Regions from separate parts of the Homo sapiens genome. Here region 2 is linked to region 1. The links come from fine-mapping of genetic effects on gene expression. A gene starts in region 1. The other region holds a variant in brackets. All regions are shown on one strand. Distances are between the middles of the regions. Region 1 holds the start of MIR3945HG (MIR3945 host gene). Region 2 overlaps ACSL1 (acyl-CoA synthetase long chain family member 1).

Region 1 (11,893 bases):
CCCTGAGTTTTTGTTCATTCTTGTCTGATCTTGGCTGATATTAGGAGAGGCAGTCTAACCCAGATGAATGAAACTCTGCTTCCTTGATCATGGCTGCAAAGGGACACCGCCCCACGCCCCACCTCCTCTGTGCGGAGATAGGAGGAATCCCTCAGACCCCACAGCTCTCTCTCATCTCTGGCAGCCTGCGCCCCAGGAGTATGAGATGAAAGAGATCCACACGATGGTCCCTGGCATCTTTGGCTACTGTTATTCTTCTATATCCCTTGGCCTAGGGATCTATTTTAGGCAGTAACTTCCACTCCCTCTCTGTCAGAAACCTCTCTCATCATTGAGCTAGATTTTGGAAGTGTAGGAACATCTGGTTTTTGGACTGTGAGTCCCCTCAAGGCTGATAGGATGTTTAATTTTAGCTAATGAATGGATGTTTAATTTATGAGTATATGATGAATAAATAAAACCAGCTCTGATGGTTTCATTTTAATCTCATTCCAAGACAAATCTTACTTTCTATATTTTCCCCCACAAAAACGGATTTTTCTTCTCCATTTCAATTCTTTTCATCTCCCTCTCCCCAAAATCTCCAATTATCAGCTCTTCCATGGAAAATTTCTTCTCTACTCTCTGTTCTGACTTGTTCATGATCTAGTAGTTTTCTCTAAGGAAGGCTATGTAGTTTGGAGGTTATAAAGCTCAGGCTTCCTGAGTTCAAGTCCCAATTCCACCATTTGATGGTTGTAACCTCTGTGCGTCTCAGTGTCCCCATTTGTAAACTGGTGCTAGTCATAGACACCAGGTTGTGGGGTTACCGAAGGAGGGGTAATGAAGGTAAAAAAAGAGCATCTATCATAGAACCTGGCAACTGATGAAAGATTCAATAATGTTGACTGTTAGTAACATTTCAGTAACATTTTACTTAAATAGATAGAGGTTATGATATTATCTAGGTAGGTAGCCCTTTCTTAATGGCCTCAGTCTAACCCAACACTTTATCATATGGGGAGAAAATGTATAATGGAACTGTGAGGAAAAATCTGGAAGAATGGGTTGCTGGTGCCAGAGAGGAGGTGACTGGAAAGTGTAACAGCCTCTCTTGCCCTGCCCTGAAGCCACTTCCACGTGCCTCAGAGCCTTTGAGCCTCCAGCAACTCTGCCATCTGCTCCAGGTGTGAACTTTGCACACAGTGAGCTCACTGAGGTCTGGCCTACTGATCAGCTGTCTTATTCCCCCCTTTCAAAAAAAGGAGCTGCACCGTCATGAGTACAAACAACTTGCCTGGGTCTACAACCCCAAGGTGACAATGTGGAGTTGTGATCCCAGGTCTTCAGAGGACCAGCTGGGACCTTTGGGACCCCAAGGTGACGATGTGGAGTTGTGATCCCAGGTCTTCAGAGGACCAGCTGGGACCTTTGGGACCCCGAGGTGACGATGTGGAGTTGTGATCCCAGGTCTTCAGAGGACCAGCTGGGACCTTTGGGACCCCGAGGTGACGATGTGGAGTTGTGATCCCGGGTCTTCAGAGGACCAGCTGGGACCTTTGGGACCCCGAGGTGACGATGTGGAGTTGTGATCCCGGGTCTTCAGAGGACCAGCTGGGACCTTTGGGACCCCGAGGTGACGATGTGGAGTTGTGATCCCGGGTCTTCAGAGGACCAGCTGGGACCTTTGGGACCCCGAGGTGACGATGTGGAGTTGTGATCCCGGGTCTTCAGAGGATCAGCTGGGACCTTTGGGACCCCGAGGTGACGATGTGGAGTTGTGATCCCGGGTCTTCAGAGGACCAGCTGGGACCTTTGGGACCCCGAGGTGACGATGTGGAGTTGTGATCCCGGGTCTTCAGAGGACCAGCTGGGACCTTTGGGACCCCGAGGTGACGATGTGGAGTTGTGATCCCGGGTCTTCAGAGGACCAGCTGGGACCTTTGGGACCCCGAGGTGACGATGTGGAGTTGTGATCCCGGGTCTTCAGAGGACCAGCTGGGACCTTTGGGAGATGCAGAGCTGCTGCGGCGCTCTTCACATGCACTTGATCTGCTGTGTCCACTAAATCTACCCCACTTCTAACACCCCAGTCCTGGACTCCGTGGGTGCAAAACGTGAGTCTCTGCACCCCTCTTCACATCCCTGGGGGGCTTGAGAATAAGCCAGCAGCCCTGAGCTGGGCTCCTTGGCCTGGCCATGACTGCCAATGAGGGGCCTTGAGTCTGTGTCCTCAGCCCCCAGCCTGTCCCCATTTTGGGGACTTGAACAGACCCACAGTGTCAGTTCCTCCCATAAAAAGATTTCAGGGGACAGCAGCACTTCCTCTTGGCCCCCAGGCACTTGAAGGCCGCCTGCACCCCCCATTCCTAGGCCTTGCCAGCCTGAGGGCAAGCTCCTTACATGACCTGCAGCTTCAGAAACTAGGCCCTCCTCCTTACTTCCCATCACCCATTTTGTCAAAGAACCTAGAATATTTTGTTATCCGAGAAGCCTGGCTTTCGACAAACCGTAGGATTGCTAGTATCTCTTTATGGAGTGGACTTGAACTGTTTATTGCAACTGTGACATGTGGCAAATCATTTTACTGTTCTGAGGCTTTACTTCCTTCTAGTTAGAATGAGCATTAGGCCGGGCATGGTGGCTCACGCTTGTAATCCCAGCACTTTGGGAGGCCAAGGCAGGTGAATCACGAGGTCAGGAGTTCAAGACCAGACTGGCCAAGATGGTGAAACCCCGTCTCTACTAAAAATTCAAAAATTAGCTGGATGTGGTGGCGGGCACCTGTAATCCCAGCTACTCGGGAGGCTGAGGCAGAGAATTGCTTGAACCCGGGAGGCAGAGGTTGCAGTGAGACAAGATCGTGCCACTGCACTCCAGCCTGGGTGACAGAGCAAGACTCCATCTCAAAAAAAAAAGAAAAAAAAAAGAGCATTAAATATATGACATCTTTAAAACTGTGTGGATTTAGAACTGAGGTATCTTCTTTGTTACCTGAGGAGGGAAACATGCTTATGGGGCTAATGTCATTTTAATTTTGGGGTAGGTCTGTCTGTCTTCTGTGGGGTGGGGGAGAGTGAAAATTTTCTCTGCTGTAGGTGAAGACCTCTAGGCTTTATTTTCAACTCATATGCCTCATGCTATTGTTCGAGAATCATCTTTTCTATTCATATAAGCTATATCATACTGATCTTTTTTTTAACCTTATTTATTATTTTTTATTTTTGAGATGGAGTCTCCCCCTGTCACCCAGGCTGGAGTATAGTGGTGCAATCTCAGTTCACTGCAACCTCTGCCTCCAGGGTTCAAGTGATTCCCCTGCCTCAGCCTCCAGAGTAGCTGGGATTACAGGCGCGCACCACCACACCTGGATAATTTTTGTATTTTTAGTAGAGACGGGGTTTCACCATGTTGTCCAGGCTGGTCTCGAACTCGTGACCTCGGGTGATCCGCCCGACTCAGCCTCCCAAAGTGCTGGGATTACAGACATGAGCCACTGCACTCAGCCCCCCTTTTTTTTTTTAACTTTAAAATCCACTTGTGACACTTTTGTAAAATACCATCAACCTTGTGTATTAAGCTACTGTTGTGACAGCCATGATAATTTCCCTCTGAAAATGGTTTGGAGACATGAAATAATAAAAATAACCTTTAAAATGCATTATCACTCTGATTCTATTAGGAAAAACGGAAGTCACTGGATTTAAACTATGTCAATGCCCTGTACTTTCTGTCTGTCAGTAGGTGCTGTAACTGTTGGCTAAATGATTATTTTTCATGCTTCCTTTCTCATTTCTGCTTTTTTAGATATTTAAAATGTCCTTGTTTCTTGGTGAGCAGAATTATTTCCTACCTCATGACCATGAGTCATGACCTTATACTCTTCTTTCAGTACAGGAGAAAGCTTCATTAATTTACTAATGCATTCATTCCACAAGTAAACTTCTGCAATCCTCGTTTATTCATATACTTTGACAAAAACAAAGAGACCCACAAGCTTTTTGAGTCTTCACAACCCAAAACATGTATTTGAAACTGAAAATTCAATCATTCCATGTTTATAGGCATATTGCTTGATAGAAACATATAAATCATTACCTGAATTTTTTTTTTTTTTTTTTTTTTTTGAGACGGAGTCTCACTCTGTCACCCAGGCTGGAGTGCAGTGGTGCAGTCTCAGCTCACTACAACCTCTGCCTCCCGGGTTCAAGCTATTCTCCTGCCTCAGTCTCCTGAGTAGCTGGGATTACAGGCGCCCACCACCACACCCGGCTAATTTTTTTTTTTTAATTTTTAATCGAGACGGAGTTTTACCATGTTGGCCACGCTGGTCTCGAACTCCTGACCTCTGGTGATCCACCCGCCTTGGCCTCCCAAAGTGCTGGGATTACAGGCATGAGCCACCGCGCCCAGCCTGGATTTTTTTTAATCCAACCCAGTTCCATATTTTCCTCTAGAGAGACTGACTCACCAAGCCTATCTCCTTTTCCTGGAAACACAATCAAATTAACTTTCCAGTCACCGCTGTGTCTAGGTGTGGCCATATGAGTAGTTCTCACCAGTGGAATGTAGTGAAAACGAGATGCTGTCTCTTAGGGACTAAGGAAGCTATCTTTCCTCTTCCGACATTTGCTGACTGGTCGATGCTAGATGATCTTGAGACCCTGTGCTGAGGACTGGAGAACTACAGGAAAGGAGCAGTATCTCTGAATTATCGTGTGGAAGGTCACTTGTCTAGCCCCTGATGACTGTGAGGTAAGTCGTTAGGGATCTGGGGTTGTCTGATACAGCAGTTAGCAGGTCCTGACTGACATATCCCTCTTATTCTTTAAGTTGAACAAATTAGAGACTGGAGTGTTTTGGGTAGCCTTGCTATATGGCATGGTCGAAGACGGTGCTTCGCAGGTGATTTACAACCCTCCTACCATTTACTCTGTCTTCATTTCAAGCAGTATAACCTATAATTTCCTAATCTTCAGCAGAATAGGAAAAGGGGCTCAAAGCCACAAACACACACGCTTCCTTTCAATGTACCTTTGTTGCTCAGCCACAGTGGCGAGTTCACGCGCCTGGCAAGACCTCTCCCTATTTGGGCATTTTGTGAATACAGAAGAATGGGCGCCCTGGTGTGACCCAACATCAGAATCCAAAACATGGCATCTTTACCTAGCCCTTTTCGCTTCTTTTAGATCATTCAATAAACATAATCTGTTTTCTTTCAAAATAACATGGTTATCTAATTCCCTTCATTAGCAGCTAGCAAAAGAGGCCCTGGGCTTCCCGTGAGCTAATTCACTGGGTCCCTGAGGTCGTTGCGGGCTTTCCCTCTCACTCTTGCAACAGACACAATCTCACTTCTTTAATGTAAAGTATGGTTTTTCTGTCGAAATGTGCTTCCTGTTTTCTTTATCGTAACTTACAGGCATGATTGCCTGGGTCTTCTCTCATTATTCCCAGTCCACTGCCTCTTCATATTTAGTGGTACTTCTGTCTTACTGGTCCCTGGAAATTTATCTCAGATCATTTCCTTTTGGGTCTATCTCTTCTTTAAGAGAAATAATTTTAAAGTCAAAGCTCCATAATACAGAGATCTGTTCTCTTTCCCACCATCTGTTTTCTGAACCTCCCCTCCTGGTTCAAGCCTCTGTAGGATAATTTGAACACAAACCATTGACTGCCAACTGAAATCGAACAAGATAATGTCCAATTTGCCCTTTTTTCTCTCTGATTTGTCCCAATGTTTACATTTCTCCATCAATCAATGAACAAATCACTTTGGTACAGTGTGCCAGTAGCTTTGAGAGGAGCACAGAAGCAATACAAGCAAGCTCACCAGTAACTTATGAGGCTCGCTTACCCAAAGCCATTCAAGAATAAGACAGTAGATAACACCAGCCACCTGGTGTATATAGAAAGTGCATTCAGAGGGCCGGGCACGGTGGCTCACGCCTGTAATCCCAGCACTTTGGGAGGCCGAGGCGGGCAGATCACGAGGTCAGGAGATCGAGACCATCCTGGCTAACACGGTGAAACCCCGTCTCTACTAAAAATGCAAAAAATTAGCTGGGCGTGGTGGTGGGCGCCTGTAGTCCCAGCTACTCGGGAGGCTGAGGCAGGAGAATGGCATGAACCCGGGAGGCGGAGCTTGCAGTGAGCCGAGATCGCGCCACTGCACTCCAGGCTGGGCGACAGAGCGAGACTCTGTCTCAAAAAAAAAAAAAAGAAAAAAGAAAGTGCATTCAGAATTGGGGAGGGGAGAGATCAATGTGTGTTAGAGCCAAGGAAACATTTAGTAAAGATGGAATTTAGCCCTTAAGGACTGTCAGGCCAGAGCAATAGGAAGTACAAACATTTCATATGTAGAGAATAACACGAACAAGGCACAAGAGCAGAAATATGAGTAACAGCCTCAGTGGGTCCTATTCGTTATGCACCTATCATGTCCCTTGCACTATGCCGGGCCCTTTGCACTCATTATATACGATGCTCACAGCAATCCTGAGATTGTGAGGCGGGTATTTTACAAATACAAGAAGTCAGTTTTAGAGAAGTACTAAATGGCAGACTCAGGATTCATGTCTGCACTTCATTCACTGCGTAGGAAGGTGAGGGTGGTTAAGGAGGTGCCACTCTGGGAGCAGAAGGCAGTCACTGGAGCAGATCAGTGGAGCTACGTTACGGAGATCCGGGATGGTCCGTGAGGATGCTGGGCCTCACCTGGTAAGCAACAGGGACTGCTGTAGAAGCTTTAGCACAGAAATAGGATGACAAACTTTAGTCAGACAAAATCTGAGTTCAAGGCCGTGTTCTGTGTTAGCTGTGTGACTGGGAACCACCGTTAAACCTGCTGAGATTGTTTCCTCCTCTATAAAATGTGTTCAACAGCAATATCAATGTATAACATTGAAAGGCTTAAATGAGATTTTACTAAAGCACCTGAGATATAGTTAGCATTTACTATATGATAGAGGTTGTTGCTGTTACTACTGCTACTACCACCACCACTGCTACCACAACAGCACTTAAGGAAGGATGATAATCTGGAGAAAAACAGCTAACAGATATTTCGTGAAGACATGAAATGAGATGGCATAGATAGATAGATAGATAGATAGATAGATAGATAGAGTTATATGCCATTTGGTTATATATACATAATCAAAACTTGACTCTGGGAGTATAGATGAATAAAGGTGAATTAGAATCTAGTATAAAGAGAGAAGATCGGAGAATGAGGATTGACACATCTGGGGCACCCACAGTTGGGGAGCGGGACACGGGAGAGAGTCAGTGACAGACACAAGGAAAATGCAGAGGAAGAGGTAAGATGGTCACGTAGACCACAGCAGTCAGGTAACAGAAGAGGTTCCTCAAAAGGCTAGGGAGGTCTACTGTGCCCAGGGCTGCTGTGGGGAGAAAAGATTGAGGACTAGGAAAAGGCTTGTGCAGTTGGGGCAGTGACAACATGGAACACAGACTGGGAGGAACCAGGTGGGAATAAAAGACACTGGCCACAGCCACAGGCACTGCTCATTCATCTGAGGTGTAAGTATAGAGAGAGAACTCGGCTGTGGCTTGGAAGTAACAGCAAGACAAAGAAGGAGGTTATTTTTAGTTCTTGGAGAGGCCAATACCGCTGGTAATCATGAGCGAGCTTCAGTTCATCTCTACCCCTTACTATGGTGCAACTCCTCATGGACTGGTTCCTGAGCCTGCACCCTCTTAGGGTGCAGGTTAGTCCTGCACTTAGTCTGGCTTCTGTTAACTTGTTTTCTCTTTCAGGTCTCACTGTTGCTAACCCCACTCATCAACTTGATCTGTTTGCCCCCAATCCCACCATTTTGCATGACATTATGGATCCTCTGATCTTTAACAAATCCATCCAAGATTGTCTGTTTCTTCTTCTAAGGTGTCACCAGGAATGAAGATTCTTTCACCTAATTTATTTTTTTCTGGTTTCACACGTGTCTGAAAAAATAATAGCAATTATTATTATTATCATTGTAGGATTCATTTCACTCCTCTCAAACACATTCAAAAAGTCTCTTCATCTCTTCCATCATGGTGATGCTCAACTGTTACCCAACTATCCAACTGTATCTTGGAGTTTTGTAATTCCATCATGAGTTGTACTCAACTGTTATCCAACATATCTTGGAGCATGCACCAGGATGCTCCCTGACACAGCTCACTTTGCAAGTAATTCTTAGACACACACTTTCTCCACCAGGCCTGTCTAGTTGAAGTTCTCTATATCCCTGCCCCCCTCCCCACCCTGGTTAAGCATAGGACTTCCATGGTTACATCCCATTTATTCCTTTCCCAAACATGCTTAATGCATTTCATCTCCAGTTACAAACATCGTCTGCTAATGAACAATGTAGATAGTTACCATGTTGTATAAATAGTTACTTATTTCCCTTCGTTGTTGGTTTTATCCAATAAACTAGCCCGATCAGCTTCATTTTATATCACCTTATCTCATACAGATGAGAAACTGTATGTATTTCAGCCTGTCTAAACTGGAGGTAACGCTAGACTGCAGTATCCCTGCACAGTGTCGTATTAGAAATGGCACCCTATAAATTTTTTATGAGTTAATAATGATTGTGATCCCATTCCTATTTTCTACAAGTTCTTCTGTTATGGTGGCAATTAAATAGCCTCACCTTCCTTTCACTTTCTGCAAACCTGCTGCAAGTCATCATTAACTTTCTTAATTGGTAGCGGCTCTGAATTCCAGTCTTTCAGAGTTCCCGTAAACAGCATCTTTCTTAATACTTATGTCATAATGTTTTTCTCCTTTCCTTGCATTTCATTCTGCCTTTGGGCAGGAACAGCATCATTTCCTGCTCTTCTGGGGTTTCAACACTGACTGCAAAGCACCCTTGCTCATCTCACTGGGAGATTCTGCAGCCAAGCAGAGATTTGCATAAAGCCCATCCACCCTTCACCAGCACAGGATACGCAGACTTAACTGCAGGGACTCTTGGTGACTAGTCTCTGTGGTGCACACTCTCCACCCTACCACCAAAAAGGTCCCCAGTACCCTAAAAGGAACTATGTACTCAAATATCACCTCAAATAAGATGAGGTCTTTCTGAGAGAAAAGAGATGTTGATGCACGTGACGGGGAGGGCATAGGAGAGGGTTGATATAAAATGCAATTACAGCCTCTTATGCTTTCCAAAGTGGGGGATGATTCAATGATTCCTGACTGGTCCACAGCCATATATCAATTGAGGTTATAATACTAATTTGAATTGCAAATCTCTGAAAAGAAGGGGACAAGCTAAGGAGATAAAATTTAACAGGGTGAGTCCTGAATTTAGATTTAAACAAACTCCACAAGTATAAGAAGGCAGAGGCTGGCAACAGTACTTGCTGTCATGTTTAGTCGGCCACTGGTCAGTCTGAGACAGCAGTGGGTGTGATCGTGTAGCAGCTATGGAAAGCTTATGCTGCATTTAATAATAATAGTCATACTTTAAAGCATGTTTCAGTTATGAATTCATTCTGACCAGAAAAGTAACTTGCACTAGCTTAACAGTCAAATAGCAAGAAGCATAGAGAAGTGGCCGCTTGCTGTGCTTCAGCAGCTCAACAGTGTCTCTATTCTCTTAGCCTCTTCCTCCTGCTTGCCACCTCTCAGTCACAAGACGGCTGCTGCGACTCAGGCTCATGTCCCAATTCAAGGCAGCAAGAAGGCCATGGAGCGGCACCTGCCAGGTATGTCCCTTTCCCAGGCATCCCCAGCAGATTTCTCACTGTCTGAAACTGCATCCCACGGCGTTCTTAGGTGCGAGGCTGGTCTGGAGAGTCAATGCTTGGGTTTTCCAATACCTGCATGGGACATGGGCAAGATGGAAGGGAGTTGGGTTTAGGAAACCAGTAGTGCCAGCCCTTTACTCGTATCATATCTGATCCCCACAGCAACCCTGAGGAGTAGCTATTTATCATCCTTATTGAGCAAATGAAGAAAATCAGAACCAGCAACATCAAGAAAAAATGAGGAAAGACATACATTAGTAAATAATAAAGCCAGGGTTCCAATTCAGATCAGGTTGAATCCAAAATTCCTCTCCCTGCCATTATAACGCATCACAGTGTTCAGGTCATGTGGGTCTGGGAAGGATGAATCATATTCAACTATCCCACCACGTTTTTGGCCATTTTTTAAAAACTAAAGTATAACACACATCTTGTTATGTTAACACTGACATCTTGAGAATATTAAATCTTCCAATCCATGAACATAGACTGTTTTTACATTTATTTGGTTTCTTCTTTGATTTATTTCAACAAAGCTTTGTAGTTTTCACAGTATAAGTTTTGTACATCTTTGTTAAATTTACTTCTAAGTATTTTAGAATTTTTATCTTAAGTGAAATTACTTTCTTAATTTCATTTTTGGTTTGCTCATTGCTACTGTATACAATACAATTAATATTTGTACATTGCTCTTAATCCTGTAACCTTGCCGGACCTTATTCATTTTAAGTTTGTTCTTTGAATATGTGAAACATTAAAAAGATTTTAAAAGCCAGAACTATACACAAAGGTATTGTCCTTGTAATTTTATATCTGATTGGAAGAATTCTCCACAGACTAGCTTCTGGCGATGTACTTTTCAAACCTTGTTTTTCTCCACTACCCATATATTTTCATGCGAATTCTGGGTACTAGGAGATACAGTCATACCACAGTATGACCTCTGGTCCTGGACTTTAGTGTCACAATGCTGTTTGAGTTAGTCAGTAAGCCATAGGAGTATTCCTGGAAGTCATTTCTACACTGGGGTGCCCAGTAATAACTTAACCATGTGTTGAAGTTACTGAAAACCACATCATTATAACCTACTCCACCAAAACTAAATATAGCTATAACTCAATTTCCCCTTAGCTGGGTCTCCAAAATGCCCAGTAACACCTGACGCAAGGGGATGTGATGGAAGGGAGGCTGAAGTGAAGGTACAGCAGACTTAACTAGTTGTAGTAAAGATACTTTACCTCTGAACATTTACGAAACATATGACCATGTGAACACAATTCTGGGTCCCCTCTGGGGCCTCGGAAGAAGGTGTCAGTGCTAGTGAGGGGCTCTAAAAGTGAAAACTTCATTAAATTCATTGCAAATCCACCTTTCTACTCCAATTCTCAGTTGTGTTCCTTTATTTGCAAAATACAAATAATATTTGCTTTGCCTATTTGAAAGGTTATTGTGATATATAATGAAATTTGTGTTTTTTTTAAATTTATATTATTATTTAATGCCTGATTAGAGTTTTTGTGTATTTCATGCGTTAAGAGTTTTACATGTATTTTCCAAAATTGGCTACAATAATACCTCCCTTCCCACATTCTCTTCTTATGGTGACTCTGACACTCCTCCACTGAGAGGACACTTTGCTCCCTCTCTTTGAATTTGGATGTCGTCTTGTGACCGCAGCAGAAGTGATACTATGACTCCAAGAGCTACGTCATAAGTGGCAATACAGCTTTCACTTGGCTCTCTTGAAATCAAACTGCTGTGAGGAAATTCAAGCCATAGAGAAGCCCACAAAAGGAACAGACAGCTCCCTCCAACTTCCCAGCCATGTGAGGGAGCCACTTTGAAAGTGGTCTCTCCAGGTCCCATTAAGCTGACAGGGTGGAACACAGACAAGCTGTAGATCCATGAGCAAAAGAAATGACTATTGTTGTTTTAAGCCTTTAGATTTTGGACTGGTGTATTATGCAGCAACTGATAACTGATACACCATCCCAGCTTTCCAGTGAAATCCCTCTCCACTCACGCCAAAATGAGCTTCCCCCTGTTCTGCAGTACACTTTGCAATTCCCCACCACTATGGCTTTCTCATGCCATCTCTTCCAGAATGTTTTCTGCCTACTGAAATACGACTTATCCTTAAAGT
Region 2 (11,893 bases), 79 kb after region 1:
GGGTAGGAACAGGGAGAGGATAGGATAACCCTGCTGAATTTTGCAAACCTATCAATTTTTACTTAGTTATTATAATATGCATTTTTATATTTACATGTGTTGCTTATCATTGTAATATTGTCCTAAGTTTGATAGTTTTCATAATTATAATATTTACTATGTAGCATTTTCTTAGTGATTTACCATCATTTACTTAATCATCCAGCCATGATTAGGTTTTTTACCCTAGAGATTTTTGATGCAATAATTTTGAAATATTTGCATATTGTTTATATGTAGGCTTTTTTTTTTTTTTTTTTTTTTTTGAGATGGAGTCTCGCCTGTCACCCAGGCTGGAGTGCGGTGGGGTGATCTCAGTGCACTGCAGACTCCGCCTCCTGGGTTCAAGCAATTCTGCCTCAGCCTCCTGAGTAGCTGGGATTACAGTTTCACGCCACCATGCCTGGCTAATTTTTTATTTTCAGTAGAGACGGGGTTTTACCATGTTGGCCAGGCTGGCCTCGAACTCCCTCAAGTGATCTGCCTGCCTCGGCCTCCCAAAGTGCTGGGATTATAGGCGTGAACCACCGTGCCTGGCCTGTATGTAGGCTTTTAAAAACCTCCTCCTGAGTTTGAATTGTTTCCTAAGAATACGTTCTCAAGAATGGAACTGTAGAACTTAAGGATAAGAGCTTGCTCTTATTTTTTATAGGTCTCTCAAAAGTTGCTGTTTCTGTGTTTATACCAAATAAACAAGTTTTGGCTGCTTTATAAATAAAACAAATCCATCTCTCTATCATTTTTAAAATTGTATAAAACTAAAATAGAAAAAAATGTATAAATAGCCCTGCCATATAATTGTCTGTGACCTGCAGCCATTGGGATAAGATTAATTTTCTTTGCAGAAGGAACCCTGCGGTCAGTTCTCTTAATTCTGATTTCTTGTGAATAAAACCTTGTGTTTTACCAAAAAATCTATCAATAAAGGAATACCTGCATGTTCCCTCTCCGTTTCTGTGTGCAGCATTGCTTGCTGGCTGAGATACAAGCCTGCCGTCTGGTCAGCTTTGTTTCTGGAGTTGGGGCCCAATGCTGCTTCTGACTTTTTCCTCTCCATTTTAGGTTGCAGAATTGTCGGAGTGCATAGGCTCAGCACTGATCCAGAAGGGCTTCAAGACTGCCCCAGATCAGTTCATTGGCATCTTTGCTCAAAATAGACCTGAGGTATGAACCAGTAGGTACTTGCTATGCATGATTTTGAGAATTCTCAGATATAAGAGCCTAACTTCTGCTAGAGACCAGATTTTGTAGTCTGATTTCTACTAAAAGTATAGCTTTACGTTACACCTTAGAAAGTTACACATATGAAAACCTCAACCAGGGCCGCTGGGCACAGTGGCTCACGCCTGTAATCCCAGCACTTTGTGAGGCCAAGGCGGGTGGGTCACCAGAGGTCGGGAGTTCCAGACCAGCCTGACCAACATGGAGAAACCCCATCTCTACTAAAAATACAAAATTAGCCAGGCCTGGTGGCACACATCTGTAATCCCAGCTACTCGGGAGGCTGAGGCAGGAGAATCGCTTGAATCCGGGAGGCAGAGGTTGCGGTGAGCCAAGATTGTGCCATTGCACTCCAGCCTGGGCAACAAGAGCGAAACTCCGTCTCAAAAAAAAAAAAAAAGAAAGGAAAACCTGAACCAGGGCCTTTTAATCGCCTTTAAGAGAAAAAAGAAATCACTTTTTTGGGGGGATTATTTTAGTTTTTTTAAACCAGGTTCCCAAATAAAATCCTTAGAACAGATAACTAACAAAGGAGTCTTTTTACTTTAAGAGTCACCTCTGTGGTTAGAAAAATGGCATTAATAAGTTATAGAGAGACTCAGATACATTTTTGTCAATAGCAGGTTCCTTTTTTTCCTTTCTGAAAGGTATGAGGCTTTCCCTCTGGTTGGTTTCTAGAGTTTAAAATACCATGGGTGATGGGGACAGTACTCACTGCTAGCCAGCCTTCCTTTGGGCAGTCTGTCATTGGTGGTCTAAGCCCAGCACGGTTTCTGTAAACCAGTGTGTAAAAGTGTGTTAGTCCATTTTCATGCTGCTGATAAAGACATACCTGAGACTGGGAACAAAAAGAGGTTTAATTGGACTTGCAGTTTCACATGGCTGGGGGGGCCTCAGAATCATGGCAGGAGGTGAAAGGCACTTCTTACATGGTGGCGGCAAGAGAAAATGCGGAAGAAGCAAAAGCAGAAACCCCTGATAAACCCATCAGATCTCATGAAACTTACTATCACAAAAATAGCATGGGAAAGACCAGCCCCCATGATTCAATTACCTCCCCCAGGGTCCCTCCCACAACACGTGGGAATTCTGGGAGATACAATTCAAGTTGAGATTTGGGTGGGGACACAGCCAAAACATATCAGAAACTGAGTTTAAATGAGCAGCTCTTTTGGAAGTATTGCTTATGGTATGACTCAATAGATTAGTAGATCTAGCTGGCTTAGAAAAATGGAAGCATCTGGCTTGAAGAAATCGAATTTATTCTTATACCTGCTTGTGTCCAGAAGACATGCTGACTCAATCCCTGTGCTACTGACTTTTTTTTTTTTATATAAATAAAGATGGCTTCTTAGAGTTTTGTGGTCTTTCAAGGGGAAAACAGCATTCTCCACAGCTGGACTGTGACTGGGCTTGTAGAATTTAGTTTTTTTCATCCCAAATGAACACATCAAAATGTTTGTTTTGATGGAATTTTATCATGAATCTAGAACTGCAAAACAAATAAGAAATAGGTTCCTTCCTGTATTTATGAGTTCATTCAACAAATGTTTGCTGAGCACCCACTATATGTCAGACACTGTGTTGGGGTGCCAAAGCACAGTGACTCGGCCTCTCTTCCTGAGGTACCACGTAAGGCAAGACAGACCTAAACACCGGTGCTTTCTCTGTCAAGTGGTAAGTGTGGGCGCAGGGCAGAAGGATTATGGGAGCTCAGTCAAGGAGGGCTCCCTGGAGGTGGCACCTGAGTAGAATCTTGAAGGAAATAGGGGCGGGGAGGCCAAGGGAATGCCCACGTTCACACCTGTGTCTGGGAGTGGAGCATTTTCATGTGGTGGAGTGGCAGGAAAGACAGCCTTCCTCATGCGTCACATGTGCCTAAGGAGCTGGGACCTGATTTCTATGTTGTTGGCTGAAAATTCCTTCTGGGAAAAAACCGAAACTCAGAAGCCTAGTTCCAGGCCAAGTGGATGTGAGTGGGTTGTGCCCCCTTCCCCCGGCTGTGCCTTTTTCTGTCCTGTGTGTCAGAGTTCTGCAGATGATTTCATTAGAAAGGTGCAGCCGGAGGCAGTGGGGTACCCCTGGGTATGGTAGTGAAAGAGTGATCTTTCACCTTTGTCCAGTAGGTAGGGCAGTGGCTATGTGGCCAGTGCCTTCAGACACATCTTACTGCATCTTGCATGTGGCAGTGTGGCCAGTTATTGTCTCACTTCTTTCCTGCACTTTTCTAGAGGGATTTTATCAAAACAGTTTTGCTGCTAGACAAGGTACTTCTTCCCCTATTCCAGGGCATACAGTGCCCTGCTGCCAGAGGGGTCTTCCTTGAGCCCCACAGCCGCTGTTTTGCTGAGAAACTCTCAGTGGCTGCTCCGTGCTCTCCAGCCAGAACCATCTGTGCCAGTCAGATCGCTCTCACTACCCCTGCTTTTGATCCTGCCATCCCCTCTGTTAGCATCTCCCTGCCTCCCTCTGTCTCTGTCTCTCTCTCTCTCTTTCTTTCTCTTTCCAAAGGCAATCTCAGTTACACCCTCCCAGTAGCATCTGTAGCTACCTTGGCCGATGGTGGGCTTTCTTATCTCTGGGTCAGTCCCTGTCTGATAATTATTGCTAATTATCTTTTAACATATTTGCCTCAATTCTTCAGGCGGATTTTAATTTATCTTTCTTTCTCTCTTTCTCTCCTTTCCTTTCCTTCCTTTTTTCTTTTCTTTCTCAATCTCTCCTCTTTCTCTCTCTGTCCTCTCATCTTTCTTTCTCTCTCTCTCTTTCCTTCCTTCCCTCCCTCCCTCCCTCTCTTTGTACATGCATACATACATACATACAGGATCTCACTCTGTCACCCAGGCTGGAGTGCACTGGTGTGATCACAGCTCACTGCAGCCTCAACCTCCTGGGTTCAAGCAATCCTCCCGCCTCAGCCTCTCAAGTAGCTGCGACATGGTGTGTGCCACCATGTCCAGATAACTTTTGTAGAGGCAGGGTTTTGCCATGTTTCCCAGGCTGGTCTTGAACTCCTGGGCTCAACTGATTCCCCCAACCTTGGCCTCCCAAAGTGCTGGGATCACTGGTGTGAGTCAGTGTGCCTGGCCTTAATTTCTTTTTAAGAAGGGGGCATGTGTTTTGTTCTCATTCTGAATCCCTTATAGCACCTGGCACAGAGTAGTAGCTAACACAGATGTTAATTTTGCTGCGTCAAATGTTTTCACTTTGAATCTCTCTTGAGTATTGTTCTCCTTATTGATTACATGATGACATCCTGTTTTCTCTCCCTGACCTTTACTGTTTGTTTAGTGGGTGATTATTGAACAAGGATGCTTTGCTTATTCGATGGTGATCGTTCCACTTTATGATACCCTTGGAAATGAAGCCATCACGTACATAGTCAACAAAGGTACGTCTGTGATCTTTGCCTGGATTATTGGCATAGTTATTGGTTAGGTTCAGTGACTTTACATTTGCTTACATTTGATTTGACAAAGATTTTACATGTAAATATATATCTACCTTTTTATTCAAAGAATGTAGTACTTCAAGTATCCTTGTGCTGGATATGACAGAGTGAATCTTTTAACATCCCAGAGCTTATTCTTCATTGTATCTCTTCATTTACAGCTGAACTCTCTCTGGTTTTTGTTGACAAGCCAGAGAAGGCCAAACTCTTATTAGAGGGTGTAGAAAATAAGTTAATACCAGGCCTTAAAATCATAGTTGTCATGGATGCCTACGGCAGTGAACTGGTGGAACGAGGCCAGAGGTGTGGGGTGGAAGTCACCAGCATGAAGGCGATGGAGGTGAGTGCCCTGCCTCCTTCCCTTCTCTGAAGGCTTTCCCTGGGGCCGTGTTGGCTCACACGTGCTATCCAGTGCTATCTAGTGCTATGGTGCAGTCCCAGCGCTGGCCGGTTGCCTCCGCAACCCATGAAAGAGAGCAGAAACTTCTGTCTCATTGCTGGAAAAAGGATTCTACATGTGTGCCCAGTGTTAACACCTCACACCTTACCCAAGTGCTTTCAGCACTCCAATATTTATTCCAGAGCACTGACAAGCTGTGCCCGGAAATGCCAGAAATGGGAATTACAGCTTCAGGCAGGTGGAACTTTCAGTTTCTGTGTCTCCTTTGGGCTTTAATGCCTTTTACTTACTAATTTGTCTCTAATGCCAAGCCAAGTATAGAAATCAGCCTCATCGTTCTTTTCCCTGGATGGCTCGTGGAGAGTCTTGGTGAATTTCCAACATGCATGTTTGATTTGGTTTGTTTTCATATTGACTCTTAAGAGTCATACCAATCACAAGTTTAAAGGCAGCCATTCCAGGAGAATGAGCGTGGTGGTCCATGCTCAGCTTGGGTGCTTGATGTCAGATGATATAAGAAGTTGATCCCCGTCAGTTGGACTTGGATTAGAGTTCCATCCAAGGAACATGGCCGGAGGAAGATCTTTTCATATACATATCATAACAAGTCATAGGAAAACAGAGTCAGTCCTTCTCTTTCTGAAGGTGTTAGAAATATTTTTCTGAAACTGTTATAGATAGGATTTTAAATTTTTATGTGTAGTTTTCCTCCTCCTACAAAGAATTTGAGGCTATAAGTAAGGATCTGTAGAACCTTTCCTGAGGAACCCAGTAGGCACAGGGAAGCGCGGGTGTTCTAACAGAACCTTCTCTCTTGTGCATGTGTGCGCCCCTGCCCAACTCTCTCTCTCAGTAG[C/T]ATCGAACGTGATTCCGCAAGTGCTGACCCGGGTGCTTCCTTGTTGAATTGGGGTTTTATAGCTTCTTACCTAGTGTTTCCCCACTTCTGTTTTTTTACTTTTAACCCTCTTTTACTATAATGTAATCTCTTTTTCCCTTACCTTCCCACAGATGCAAGAATTTTTCTGGTGTTTTTTGACTGCTGTATGATAAAGAAGTAATGTTGAAATTTAAAAATTATTTAGTTGATTGAAGATTATAATATAAAGTTTATATTAAAATATTAATTTATAGAAGACATTGTTTTACACTTACCTGTTTAATATGATCTGTACTTAGTTTTTAAAAATATTCTGAGCAAAAGGTGAAGAGATCGCCCCACTGCACTGCAGCCTGGGTGACAGAGCGAGACTCCATCTCAAAAAATAATAATAATTGCAGTATTTTTCCTAAGTGATACTGTAAGAGAGATGTAAGGCTGTGAAACTTTTGCGGCAACAGTGCACTAATTTGGATAATGTTTGTTCCCAATAAATTAAGAGCCAAATTGTATGTAACTGGTGCTTTATTTTATTTAACATCAGTTTTTGAAGAATTGGGCATCTCCAGAAGTTATGTAAGAATTTTTAATAGACAAATAGAAATCTGGAGCTAATAAAGGTTATTTTGAAAAAAATGTACAGAATTATTGCTTTAGCTTTTGGCTGACCTCTAATTGGATATATTAGTTCCTGTTCTTAATCGGTGGTCTGTCACTACATCATTTAAAATGTAATTAAGATTGAAAACTTAATGTATGCTGGGCAGAAACTCACTAAGCCCTGAGCACACCCATCTAATTTCCACGTGAATTGAACATGTTCAATGGCGTGTTCAATGGCATGTTCATTCCATATCCTCATTCAAGCTGTTCCATTTGAATAGGAAAAGAATATAAATAGTTCATTTGTTAAAATTAATAGATATTAAAGTGGCCACCAAGACTGCCCTAATGCAGTAAACCGAACCCCATCAGTGGTAGTGACTGGAAGCCTGCCGCTGGGAAATGCTGTCCCCGCGCAATGCTTCTGTCATTCTTAACCTTCAAGTCCATTCAGGAAGGAGTCTTAGAGGGTCTGCTGTGGCCTGTTTTATAATTGGGGGCTCCCAAATCCTATCTCCACTCTACGAGGGGAGATATTTGAGCAGATATTTGAGCCTCTCCAAAATGCCTAGCATTTCAATCGAGCAGAGATTGATTTTTCTTCTTCCCAGATTGCAGATGTCAGTTGTGCAGAATGTGGGGGTGAGGTAGTGCTGTGCTCTGATTTGAGGAACCTACGAAGTATCTGCAGTATCTCGTTATGGTTAAGAACAGGGCTTTATTAAAGGCCCTAATAAGAAGTGGAAGTGGGGACCAGAAATGCATGGTAAAGACTTTGGCTGCTGTTTTTTTAATACATCCTATTTCAAAGACCAGTCCTAATACCGTTTATGTAGTTTTATGTAAGAGAAGAGGTAACTGGAAAATGGCTTCTCAGAACAATGAATAAATATTTTGGTTCTGGTTAATTAAAACTGCCATAGTTTCTTTAATTAGAAAATTATGCTGTTTTCGAGCCAGGTGTGAATGAACCCCACAGTAAAGCCAGCTTTAAGTGACTCGATGTGACCTTATCCTTTACAGTTAGAAAACGTTTCCATTTAAGACTTTTTTTCTCTTCTAATTAAGGACCTGGGAAGAGCCAACAGACGGAAGCCCAAGGTAAGCACACCGTGTCAGACCCTGCTCTGTCCTCTTTGTAGTTTTCAATATCTAGCCTGGTACCTTGTGGCTTATAGTTCTCTTTTCTGTTCTGATTTATACCAGCTTTTTTTTTTTTTAATCTTTAGCCTCCAGCACCTGAAGATCTTGCAGTAATTTGTTTCACAAGTGGAACTACAGGTGAGTTTTGAGATAGAATTGCTTCTACATATGGCAGCCATTGGTCTGGACTCTCCCCTACCTCTTTTGGATGACTTATCAGCTAACAGTAGACGGACCAAAAGCAGAAGAGAAGGAAGCGGTTCAAGTGCTGTCTTCTTGTTGCTCTGTAAGATCTTCTCAGAGTCCAAGAGTGCCGGATAATTCCTCAAACATTTATTGAGGGTGATATTAGATTCACCTGTCTTCCTAGGACAGACTATATCGGTGGCTCCCAGGAAGAAAATTTCTGGTTTTTCTTCTCTTATGACTACGTATATACCCTTTAAAATGTGCCCATATTAATAAAGGTTTTTAAAGATAAGTCAGTGTAAGGATTGCAGGTTGCTTAGGAATTTAGTGTTCAACATTTGGTTTTCACGATATATCTAACAGTAGAGGTGTCTGAAGCCCTAATTATGTGAGGTTTCTGGGCCTCCTTCATTTCTGTCATTCTTTAACTTTGTTCTGCTTCATATGTGCTCCACAGGCAACCCCAAAGGAGCAATGGTCACTCACCGAAACATAGTGAGCGATTGTTCAGCTTTTGTGAAAGCAACAGAGGTAACTTTTTGGGATGTCGTCATCTTTCCTCATTGATTGACATTAGTCCTTGAGAATGAAAGTGCTGAAGGTGGGCACCAGTGTGTTAGGTCCATGTGGCATTTAGAAACGATGTGACATATGGGTAAGGTCAGAACTTTAGGCCCAAGTCCACCTTCTCTCTTTTTTCACTTTGAACCTAATCGCCAACCCTTGCCTTATGATAATTAAGGTGAATTGACAGATGAAGTTCACTGCAACATTTATATAGAGAAACTCTATTTGGATATTGCCCTAGAAACATGTCCAAGAAAGGACAGAGAAGAGATGGACTCTCTTGTGTTTTTATCCAGCGTCCCTGTATTTGGGAAATAATTTATTTTAAATTGGCAATGATATGTTAAAAGTTTTTGAATGATTATTATCTGTTGTGGTCAGTGTGACTTCCATTGCACTAGAAGTAGTAAAGCCTTGCACTTCAGCTAATTTCCCATGCTTTTAAAGTTTACTATCCAGTGTCTTAGTCTATCCAGTCACAGCAGGGCCCCATCTACATTGGGAGTTAGGATGTTGACATACGAATTTAGAAGGGGGTGATGTGATTCAGTCCATAACACCAACAGCCTATTCCAAACTTGCCTTTTAAAAAGGTGCTTATTGAACCATATGCCTTTTCCTTATACTCTTTTTTACATTTAACATAATTGGCTTTTGCAGTCTCTTTGGAAGTATTCTGTAGCTCTGATTTTTGTAGCAGGAGCCTGAGCTTAATGGCTTTGGGGAATGGACATGTTTGGTGGCTGCAGAAAACTGATCTTTGAGGGATCTTGCCACTTACTTTACTTGGCTCACACTTTCCAAATGCCCTTTTTAAAGATGTATACTTTCTAAACAGAGTTCAACATTTAGTACCTTACCAAAGTGAAATTTTAATTTCCTAATTGGCCTTCAAACAAAACTTAAAATGCATTGGTGGCTCATTGAGGCAAATGATTACAGAACTTTGTTTAAAGTCAGTTACAATATCAAATCAATTACAATATCAGTATCTTCTCAGCTTTGTAAGATGTCTAATCATGATAATGGACAATATTTTTGTTCTGAGTCAGAAAGTTGAAAAGTATAGATAGAATGGAGTCCGATTTCTCATTATATTAATATAACAATTTCATCCTGAGAAGTACTACTTGGGATGCCTGTCAGACTTGAATAAAATCCAGCTGAGATTATAGCATGCTCAGCCCACATCCAGTGCTTCTGGGGCTGCTGTGTTTGCTCAGGATTGATGCTTTCATCCATTGTCACATTATTATTAAGGGTGACCCAGCTTTAGGAAAGGAAGGGGCATGGCTCAGAACTTGGTATATCATCCCCTAGGTAACGACAATGCCCTCATTTCTTAGTTGGTATGACAGCAGCTGCTCTTGCACACCCCCTGTTTTGGCCAGAATTCTTTATGTTAATAACATGAATATTCTATACAAACCCTCACTGTGCCTGCCCTAAGTAAGGCCCATTCTGAGGGAAACCAGATGTCCAAACTTAATCTGTCTGTGGACCCATCATGATCAGCATTTTATAGGAGAGCAAATTCCTGGGTGCCAGATCTGAGGTTGCATTAAACAAATTGTGATATGTAAAGTAGGGCTTTAAGGTATTAAAAATATTGATCAAACTCAAAATACTCTAAGGACCTTGGAAATCCACCTTCTTTTATCTTCTTTCCTCCTTTCCCTTAACAACATAAAATGCAATTTTATGTTGAAATGGGTCCTGTATTTCTTAAGGTAAAATTGAACTTGCTGGGTACTAGGATACTGTAGTGATGAAATACTAACTGATTAGAGCATATAATCCCTTAACCTTCCAATTTGAGCAAAATTTTCCTTGTTTTGATTAAAGCCCTGAAGTGGATTTACTTTGTCATGGGGAGTGACTTCCACTTTGTTTGAATAATTAAAGTATTGCTTTTTTTTTTGATTCAGAGTCTCACTCTGTTGCCCAGGCTGGAGTGCAGTGGTGCAATCTCGGCTTACTGCAGCCTCCGCCTCCCTGATTCAAGCAATTCTGCTGCCTCAGCCTCCTGAGTAGCTGGAATTACAGGCATGTGCCACCATGTCTGGCTAATTTTTGTATTTTTAGTAGGGATGGGGTTTTACCATGTTGGCCAGGCTGGTCTTGAACTCCTGACCTCAAGTGATCTGCCTGCCTTGGCCTCCCAAAGTGCTGGGATTACAGGCGTGAGCCACCATGCCCCTTGTTTTTCATTTTATTCTTTGGTGAGAAGAAATTGCAGACCATAAGCAAAAGCCGTTTCTCCTCAGTGTTGAGGTACTATGTGCTCAGAAATAAAATGGAAGTTTACTCGGAGTCTTTTTTTTTTAATTTTATTATTATTATACTTTAAGTTTTAGGGTGCATGTGCACAACGTGCAGGTGTGTTACATATGTGTACATGTGCCATGCTGGTGTGCTGCACCCATAAACTTGTCATTTAGCATTAGGTATATCTCCTAATGCTATCCCTCCCCCCTCCCCCTACCCCACAACCGTCCCTGGTGTGCGATGTTCCCCTTCACTGGGAGTCTTAATGCTTTTCTGCCTTGCTGGTGTCTTTGCTTACAGAATACAGTCAATCCTTGCCCAGATGATACTTTGATATCTTTCTTGCCTCTCGCCCATATGTTTGAGAGAGTTGTAGAGGTAGGCATTTAATTTTGTTTTCCTTGCTTGTTTGTGTATGTTCTGCTAAGTTGTTGTGTTTTACAGAAAGCACTTCCCTTGAGTGCCAGTGACACACACATTTCATATTTACCACTTGCTCACATTTATGAACAGTTATTGAAGGTAAGTGTGGCGTGCGGACTGTCATCCCTATAGAGAATTCTCTGCTCAGCCCCGTTTTAGAAATGGTGCAGATTATTTGAAAGAATATAAATTCTTTTTCTGAGTATGAACAGGATACTGGAATTTAATCACTCATTTTAAAATTAGGAGTTCAGACTTTTGAAGGATACTAATGTGGACATGAGTCCAGAAAAACCAACTATAAAGGTAAAGTCATTATTAATTCAGTTCTACAAAGCCCAGCGAGGCTTCCGTTCTGTGAGAAGTCTCTATTTTTGATTGTGCTTGTTCCTAATGCACAAGTTGGCTTGCGACTAATTTTTTCAGCAATATTCTAAGTGCCCTTGGAGAAAGAGGATGATCCTTGAGTTGACCTTTGCCTAGGCTCCCTGTAATCAACTGTGTGACTAATTTTAAAACTGACCAAGAACCACCTTTTTTCCTTCTTTGACAATTTTGGATTTTATGCTGTAGGAAAAAACAATGAGCACCATTCATTCATTTAGTGAGTAGTTACTGAGCTCTAGCTGTGTGCCCTCTGCTGTGTTGGAGACAGAGGTGACTATCAGCCGATGCTTTGGATGACAGCTGCCCTGTCGGATTTGCTCATCCC

Evidence for each region. PIP is the estimated chance that this variant, and not a neighbour inherited with it, causes the effect. A credible set is the group of variants that fine-mapping cannot tell apart.
Region 2: its variant is the best candidate, but not a certain one, in a credible set for the expression of MIR3945HG in whole blood (INTERVAL, PIP 0.50).

The regions. Positions count from the first base shown.
Region 1 is chr4:184,848,310-184,860,202 of GRCh38, reverse strand. MIR3945HG (MIR3945 host gene) reads left to right here and starts at 4,551. Exons shown (of 3, transcript NR_132989.1): 1 at 4,551-4,734; 2 at 9,604-9,708. MIR3945 (microRNA 3945) reads left to right here and starts at 9,093; the gene lies at 9,093-9,190. RefSeq lists an enhancer at 9,574-9,643 and a silencer at 10,712-10,781.
Region 2 is chr4:184,769,642-184,781,534 of GRCh38, reverse strand. ACSL1 (acyl-CoA synthetase long chain family member 1) reads left to right here. Exons shown (of 21, transcript NM_001995.5): 5 at 1,102-1,203; 6 at 4,552-4,651; 7 at 4,873-5,051; 8 at 7,660-7,692; 9 at 7,821-7,872; 10 at 8,381-8,454; 11 at 11,059-11,136. Among named protein-coding and RNA genes, the nearest start is that of CENPU, 41 kb to the right of the region's middle. The variant C/T (reference allele first, on the strand shown) is at 5,968.